Linked DNA regions of Homo sapiens. The protein of the gene in region 2 interacts with the protein of the main gene of each other region in a biochemical or structural test. Each region holds a gene or a part of one and is shown on either strand. Other genes may lie near its edges.

Region 1 (3,905 bases), on a different chromosome or scaffold from region 2:
ATGCCGTGGTGGGCCATCTCCACGATCTTGTGGCGGATGTGGTTGGGCAGCGGCCTGCCGTTGATAAAAACACCGCCGAGCTGGTTGACGCGGCCCTGGCCGAGGGGAGTGGACACTGTGGGAAGGTGAAAAAGAGAAGCAAGGGAAAAGTCACTGGAGGAAAATAAAAAGCAAAGAACAGCAGCACGTAATTTCGCAGTCTTCTGTCCTATCCTCATGTTACAGCACCGACGCTGAAACTGCTCGACATCGGACTCCCAGACCCAGACCTCCTTTCAATCACATTTGTTCAAATTATTCAGCAATATAGCGCATGTAATCTTGTGTAAAGACAGCAAATGGGGCAAAATAATTCTCCCCAGAGAAAGCGTCTTCCCCTTCGGGCCCGGGGAGTGGCAACTTAGGAGACCCTGCAGCTGGTAGAGAGTCTAGCTTGCTCTAGAAACAGCCTCCTGGCGAAGAGAAGTTCACCCAGGAGCTGGCCTTGATGAACTCTGCTCCCACCGATCCCTGTCCAATTGGGATCTCTCCCTTTCTAAGGGACTTGGGCCAGCTGATAGCCCTTGGGGTTTCTAGCCAAAAGTGCAGCAGCCAAGGGTCAAAGAGGGTCCAGAAAGGAGGCCCAAGCAGCAGTGCCTGTGTCACCTGTTACATCTTGGGACAGAGACCACAGCAGCGGCAGGGCTGTTCCTGGGCCCCCAGCCCCCATTCTTGCTCTGGGTGTTACATTCTACTCTAGGCTGGGTGTGAAGGGAGTGGGTGGCGGGGGCGATGAGCATCTCTGCTGGGGCGCCCTAACCTGGAAAACCATTGAAAACGGCTCAGGCTTGCAAGACTTCCTGCCTCCCCGGGATTCCCAGAATCTTCAAGTGGACGGAAAGGCGATTCCTAAACAAGTTATAGAAACTTCTAGATGCTATTTGAGATACATAGAATTCTAATTTATTTAATTATTCTAAAAATTCCAATCACAATGGCGCGGCGTTAGCCACCACAACTTTGCAGGGCAAAAAAAAAAAAATACTTCCTGAACTAACATATGTTTCACAAGTGTGGGCGCAGCCGGGACAATTTCGAGACAACTTCGAGACAATTTCGAATGGACAAATTGCGGAGAAGTTGCTTCTGCCGCTCAGAAGCCGGTTCACCTCCTTCTCCACCGCGGCATTTCCAAAACAACAGGGACAAGTCTCCCCGGCTCGCCGCAGGCCTGACCGCCCAGCTCCGCCAGGATTTGCAGAGAGCAGCGCGCTCCATTTGCAGAAAGGAAATCGAGTAGGTCCTCGCCCCCGACTGGTGCTTCTTGGGGTGTGGGGTGCCCAGGGAATGGGCTTCCTGGAAGCACCAAAGGAGCCTGCGGAGCCTGGGGATGGGGTGAGGCAGCCGGTCCCAGGCCCTGGGATCCAGGCGGCGCGCTGAGGCCCTCCCTTACCTTCCAGCGGGAACCCGCTACGCGGGTAGTTCTGCCCCGGGCCCGGCCGCATCATCCTGGGCACAGCGCCGGCCAGCGTGGTCATCCTGGGGGCAGCTTCGCTCGGAAATTATATCCAGGTGAAGGCGAAACGGAAAGGCGAGTGCGGCGCGGATGACCCTCGGGAACTATCCGGAGCGTGGAGAGCCCCTCCCCAAAACGGCTGGAGAGAGAGGGAGGGACGCGGGGAGGGGGGCTGTCGGTTCCTAGTCCAGAGGCCGGAGCTGGAACCCGGGAAAGGGGAGGACGGGGAGGCCCCGGAGTCCAGGATCCCGAGCCCAGGGCGGAAAAGTTTGGTACGAGTCTGGGCAAATGTTCCAGCGACTGGGGTCCCTGAAAAGGGGGCTCAGAGAGCCACGGCGAGCCGGGGAGCCTGGTGAGGCTGGAGCGCGGCCTGCCTGAGTCTCCTCCTGTGGTGACACCGAGTGCGGGGATCCGGGCTCGGGAGCATTTATTAGTTCTTTTACCCAAAGCTTGGTCAGGAGCCCTGAGCTGCGATTGGCCGACGGGTAGACCGTCCCGGGTGGCGGAGACACGCGCTGATTGGGCAACAGCGACCACTTTCTCTTCCCATCTCTGGTGGTGCCGAGGCCTCTGCTGGCCCCGAGGGGGACCCGCGCTGCGCCCCTTGCCCAGGAGAGAAGGTTGGCCCGGTGGAAACTGAGAGAGACAGCCCCAGGGAGATGGCAGTTGCTGAGGGCGGAGAAGTTCCTGTCTCTCTGTCTCTGTCTCTCTGTCTGTGTCACTCTGTGTGTGTGTGTGTGTGTGTGTGTGTGTGTGTGTGTGTGTGTGTGTGTGTCTTTCTCTGATCACTCTTTCCTTGACTTTCTATTTCCCTCTCTGTCTCTTTCTGTGCCTCTGTGTGTGTGTCTCGCTCAGCCTCTATTCCTCTTGTGATTTCCTGTGTCTCTCTCTATGTCTCATTTTTTCTACCTGTAGGTCTCGCTCTCATTTCTCTTGGCTTACTGCCACTGGAGGGGGCACAATTCCAATAAGAAGGCATCTGGGGCCCCAGACATATTTAGCTTTCCTTCCTGTGGTCAGTGCCCCTTGGCCTAGGCTTGTTAAGGGGTCCTCCCGATGGGGCTCCTCCTGGGAGGAGTCCAGGGTGCGCTGATGTTCTTTTGTCTTCTCCGTCCGCAAGCGGGGCTAATGTGAAGCACAGGCAGCCGTCGCTAGGCCCAAGCACTCGTTAGTTGAAGGCTGGGGGTATGGGGGAGGGTGCAGAAAAAAACCTGGCTCCTCTTCTTGGTGTAAAAACCGCTCTGGCAAGCTGCGGTTCTAAATCTCTACATATAGATCCCCGATGCGTCGACAGAGATGTGTCTGTATGTTAAAGTTTTGCCCGGGTTCAGCGTTTGTTCTCAGGAATTTATTATGGCATTCAGACTAAACTGCTGGAAAAATAAAAGGAACGAAGTCTTGGCTAGGAGCTGAAGTGTCCCCAGCAGGATATGACGCCAGGAGTGTTGTAAAGACTGTCTGTCCTTAGAGAAGGTACCATTGTGCATAGCCTTTTATTTATAACTTGGTAAGTGCCAGCGAACTCGCCTCCTTTACACCCCCGAGTGCCAGCCCCGCGCTCTGCACTGCGCTTTATTCGCTCGAGCCTATTCAGGGACTGTCACTCCGGGGCCGCGAGGTATTCAGGGCCTTAATCAATCAAAAGGATGAGAATCGGGCAGGTTTTTCCCTTTGAAATAAAGGAAACAATGACTTCTGGGCTTCAAGTTCCCCCTTTTCCTTTTATGATTTTTGAATTTTTCCTGCCCCTGGAGGGAGTTCTCCACTCCTCTCTCTCTGTCCCCCTCCCCCACCTCCTTTGACAGTTTTGACGTGAACTCGGGCCCCCAACCCTACTTCCCCATTCCCTAATTAAGGCAAACTCAGAAGGCAAGATGTAGGGGGGTGTGGGGTATAGCCGCTCAGCAGTCCACAAGTTGGCCCTTTAAAAACCCACTCACCATTGGGGAAACCAGGCAAGCTTTCAGCCTGCCTGATGCCAGAAGGCTTGGTTGACCCTCAGAGCCACGGAGACAGGTCTCAGGAGACTCCCAGAAATGTCTGGACCCATGAAGGAGGCATGTGCCTTGTTTAACCTGGTTTTACATTAAATGATTCAATTTTTCAAGGGGAAAATTTTCTCATTTTCTTTTTAAGGCGTTGGGGCCACCAAAGCCTGTGTCCGTACGTTTTAAGCCACTTCTCAGCGATAGCATTTTGAGAGCTAGACTTTTTCCAAGTTTTCTTCTTCCCAAAGGTTAAGCAGAGTCGACAGAGCACTTTCTGGGGTCAGCGGTAATTGCTGTGTGAAGGAGGTACCAGAAGTGTAATTTCAAGAAGGCAAAAGTAGGCTCAACTCTCAGCTAAAATAAACTCTTGGACCCCGCGAGCAGTTAAAGAACATCTAGAGCTGAGTCTCATTTGTTTTTGA
Region 2 (3,905 bases):
TGAAATATCTCCGAGCGTGTTCTCTGAGTAGAGCAGCCAGGGGGCCGTGAGGCCTTGGAGCGAACCGCCTTGGGCACCTGGAGTCCACTTTAATGGCTCAGTCCTAGACGTTTGGGAGCTTCCCATAGGATTAGCGGGGGCGCCTTCCCCTAATTGACTTGGTGCCCCGCCCCCTCCACTGGAACCTGAATGTCCCCACCCCTGAATCATCCATCCGCCCAAAGCACCAACTATCTGCCTCAAACTCAAAGGGCATGGGGAGGTAGAATTCTGTAGGAGCTTCGGAACCTCTAGGCAAAGAGGTACTTGAAAGGGAAGAGGGGCTGGGGGACACCAGCTCCTACTGCGAGAAAGTGAAACTCCGGGTGCAGGGAAGATACCGCACCACACACATTCATCCGCTGGGGTGAAGCCGATGAAACAGAGTTTGGGATCAGATGAGGGATCATGGACCCCTGAGGTCGTTTGGTGGGGGCAGGAGGACAGGGTGCCCAGACATCGGTGTCCTATCCGTTAACTCCCACCCGCAGCGTCTCTGGGCCAAGGCGAGGAGGTCTGGAACCTTCTTCCTGGGTGGGAGTGGAGGGAGGCGCAAGACCCGGCCTTGCAGCCCACGGCTCCCTAGCACCGGCTGCAGGTACGCAGGCGCCGGAGGCCACCAGGAGCCCTCGGGTCCCACACCCCACCCGGCCCCCACCCGGCCCCCTCCCTCTGCGCCTGGGTTCTGGCTACTCACTGGCCGGCGGCGGGGAGAAGCGGGGGCTCTGCATCCACGGGGTCCTCTCGGGCTTCTCGGGGCTCTCGGCTTTGACGAGCGCATCTTCTGGCAGCTTGAGGAGTCCCCCCACCGAGAAATGGCCGAGCGGCCGCGGCGAAGAGGGCGCGTCCGGGGCTCCCAGCGACCCCGGCGGGACGCCCAGTGGCTGCGCCGAGCCACCCGCCGCCTGCACGCCCTCGGAGGGCGCCAGGGCGCTCTCCTTGGCCCCCGGCTTCCTGTGGTCGGCCATGAGCGCCTCCACGCTGAAGGGCAGGAGCGAAGGGGACACTTTGGGCTTGGCCCCCTCCTCGTCCGCGCCCATGGCGGCTGCCGTGGCCGCGGCGGCGCTGGGGGCCTGGCCCGCGCCTCCCCCCGCCGGCTTGCCGAAGGCGGAGTCCTCCACTTTGACACCGAGTGGCAAAGAAGTCATGTCAGCAGCCGGGGCCATGCAGAGCCGGGCCCCCCCTTCTGCCGCAGCACTGGCCAGCCGCCGGGCATGGGCTCCGGGCGGGCTGGGAGCGCGGCCGGCCTCTGCGAGCGCCCGGGGCCCTGGCCGGGCGGACCCTCCCGCGCGCGCCTCCCGCCCCTCCCCAGCAGGCCAGCTCCGGCGTGCTGGGCCTGGCCTCCGGTCGCTGCCGCCGCGCAGGCAGAGTTCCCGGGAGCACTCGCCGGCTCCGGGCCCTACCGCGGCTCCCCAGAGAACTTGCTAATAAGGCGAGGCCAGCGGGGCGGCGGCCAATCAGCGCGCGAGGGGGCGGGCCCGGAGCGATCCATTGGGCCGCGCTCCTGGGGACTCGCCCGGAGGCGCGCTGGGCCTGGGGGCACGCAGGGCAGGGCCCAGGCGGCGGAGGGCAGGGGAGGAGAGGGGGTGCCCGGGAAACTTTCCTCTGCGCTGAAGCCCAAGAGGCCCTCTCTGCGGGAGTCCCCTGGGTCTCTATCTTTCTGTGTTCCCGGGGGATTTTCCCTTGTTCTCGTTCCTTCTCTTCTGCCCTCCTCTCCTCCCCTCCCCTCCCCTCCTCAGCCCTCTTTTCCGCTCCTCTTTTTTTCCCCGTCCTTGTTTCTCTCCTCTACTGCTTCTTTTACCTTTCTCTTTAGTCTGTGGCTGGGTTTCCCTGTGCCCCCCTCCACTGTCTGACCCCCCCTCTTCTTCTACCACAATAATTTGAGTTGAGGTTATTTCTTACACATTCCTTTTATATATAGTTTTTAAAATACGCATGGCTATTTATCCTAGGAGAAAGACATACTATTAACTTCTTTTCAAGAAACGAAACAAAACCAAACCTTCATTTTCTTCCTGTTCTGAAATCTTGTAAACTTTACCTCGAGGTAAAAGTGGGCCTTTGTCTCTAACTTAGAGCTGGAGTAAACCTTGCGGGAAGAAGCTAGCTTCCTGTAGTGCCAAGGATGTGAGAATACGTAAGATTATCTAGAATCTGCAGTCGGTTTTCATACACGATGTGTATTCCCCCCCCCCCACCCTCGCTCTGAACTTCTGTCCCAAGGGTCACAACACCTATAGCGCCCGGGCGGGGAAAGGAGCTGCCAGATCCTTTTGATATAGAACTTACTGAAATAAAACCAACAGAATCGTCAATGAAACACCGATCTGGCCTTAAGGTGACCTCAAACAACGCGTCCTCGGAAACAATGACATGTCCCTATCTCTGGGCCGCTGATCCTGGAGGGGAGAGGCACATTTGGGGGAGGGGGCTGGGAAAAGAGGAAAGTTCCTGGAGGTGGACTCTAGTGTGGGACTTGAGAACTCTTCTTTTGCCAATTTCGGAGAAAACGTGATTTAATGTTTGCTGTTAATAATAATAATAATAATAAAGACAGAAAAAATGAGTTGGGGTCAGGGGAGATGCAAGATCTGCCTGAAGCGGGGTCGGGGCTTGGCCATTTTCTGCGCCTGTCGCTTTATGGCCTCTCCTCCTGCGGCCCAGGCCAGCGGCTCTCAGGGAGTGAGCGGAGGTGATTGGCGGCTCACTCGGCCCTGCCATTGATGACTGCGGGGTTCTAATCTCCAGGAAACACAAGGGGCTGCCGTGGCCATTTAGGGGTAATTATCCGAGCGCGGAGGGACAGCGAATTCCCTCGACTTTTAACTGGGCGCAATAAAAGCTGTAGATTAGGGGCGTCCAGATTAGGGAAAATGAATTAGAGCGGGAACTTTATTATCCGGAAGACGTCCGGGGTCTGGCGGCAGGGGTCGGGCTGCGGACGCCGGAGCGATTGGTAGCCTCCCATCTGTCCACAGGCCGCCGAGATATGCTGAGGCCTGGGGAAGTTCGGGAATACCGGCATCTGAATTTTACGCACATCTCCAGGTTTCTAAAGGACCCAAGACTGCAACTCAGGCACTGGGCAGTGGTTGGGGCTTCTAGCTCGAGTTGGGCCGGCTGGACGCGCGGTGCACCGGGGCCTCCGGAGGTTTGCCCGAGAGGGTACAAGGATAGAAGACCTTAAGACCCAATTTTGAAGCTCAGCTCGCTGAGGCTGAGCAAGGCTGTAGGGCAAATACCTTGCTGGTAGCCCAGCCAGGACAGCGAACAACAGCATCTTCCTCTTCTTCCTCTTCTTCTTCTTCTTCCTCTTCCTCTTTTTCTTCCTCTTTTCTCCTCCTCCTCATCCTCCTCTTCCTCCTCTCCTCCTCATCTCCTCCTCCTCCTCCTCCTTCTTCTTCCTCTTCCTCTTCTTTGAGACGGAGTTTTGCTCTTGTCGCCCAGGCTGGAGTGCAATGGCGCGATCTCAGTTCACTCCAACCTCCGCCTCCCAGGTTCAAGCGATTCCAGGACGGCGAACTTCTATTGCTCCCGTTCTAATCAAACTCTCGTCAGAACAACCCCCTCCGCACCCAGCCAGAATCTCCCTTTGTGGCCAGGTTAAAGGGGGAGAGGAAACAGAGGCCTATCTGCTTTTGGGGCCATTTAAAAAGCGAGCAGTGTGCCTTTTCGAGTCTTTGCTTAGTTCCGCCCTCGCCCTCCTTCTGCAAATGTTTTGCTCCCAGGTCTCTTTAAGAATCTGATACAGCCAAGAACTTCTTCCCTAGAAAAATGCACACCTACAAAAACACATTACAAGCAACGGGGCAGACAACTTCGGGGGCTCTGGTCCCAAGTGGAGTCCTCCAGTTAAGAACCCCTGC

What was found.
Region 1: the proteins of MSX1 (region 2) and PAX3 form a complex in vitro, tested with the Homo sapiens proteins (one study listed by BioGRID).

What each region holds. Positions count from the first base shown.
Region 1 is NC_000002.12:222,297,099-222,301,003, forward strand, and holds the start of PAX3 (paired box protein Pax-3), read right to left. Parts: upstream 1,901-3,905; 5' UTR 1,518-1,900; coding exon 1,433-1,517; intron 1,276-1,432; exon of another isoform or gene 1,049-1,275; intron 116-1,048; coding exon 1-115. UniProt on the Homo sapiens protein: Transcription factor that may regulate cell proliferation, migration and apoptosis. Involved in neural development and myogenesis. Transcriptional activator of MITF, acting synergistically with SOX10.
Region 2 is NC_000004.12:4,857,200-4,861,104, reverse strand, and holds the start of MSX1 (homeobox protein MSX-1), read right to left. Parts: upstream 1,441-3,905; 5' UTR 1,206-1,440; coding exon 737-1,205; intron 1-736. UniProt on the Homo sapiens protein: Acts as a transcriptional repressor. Capable of transcription autoinactivation.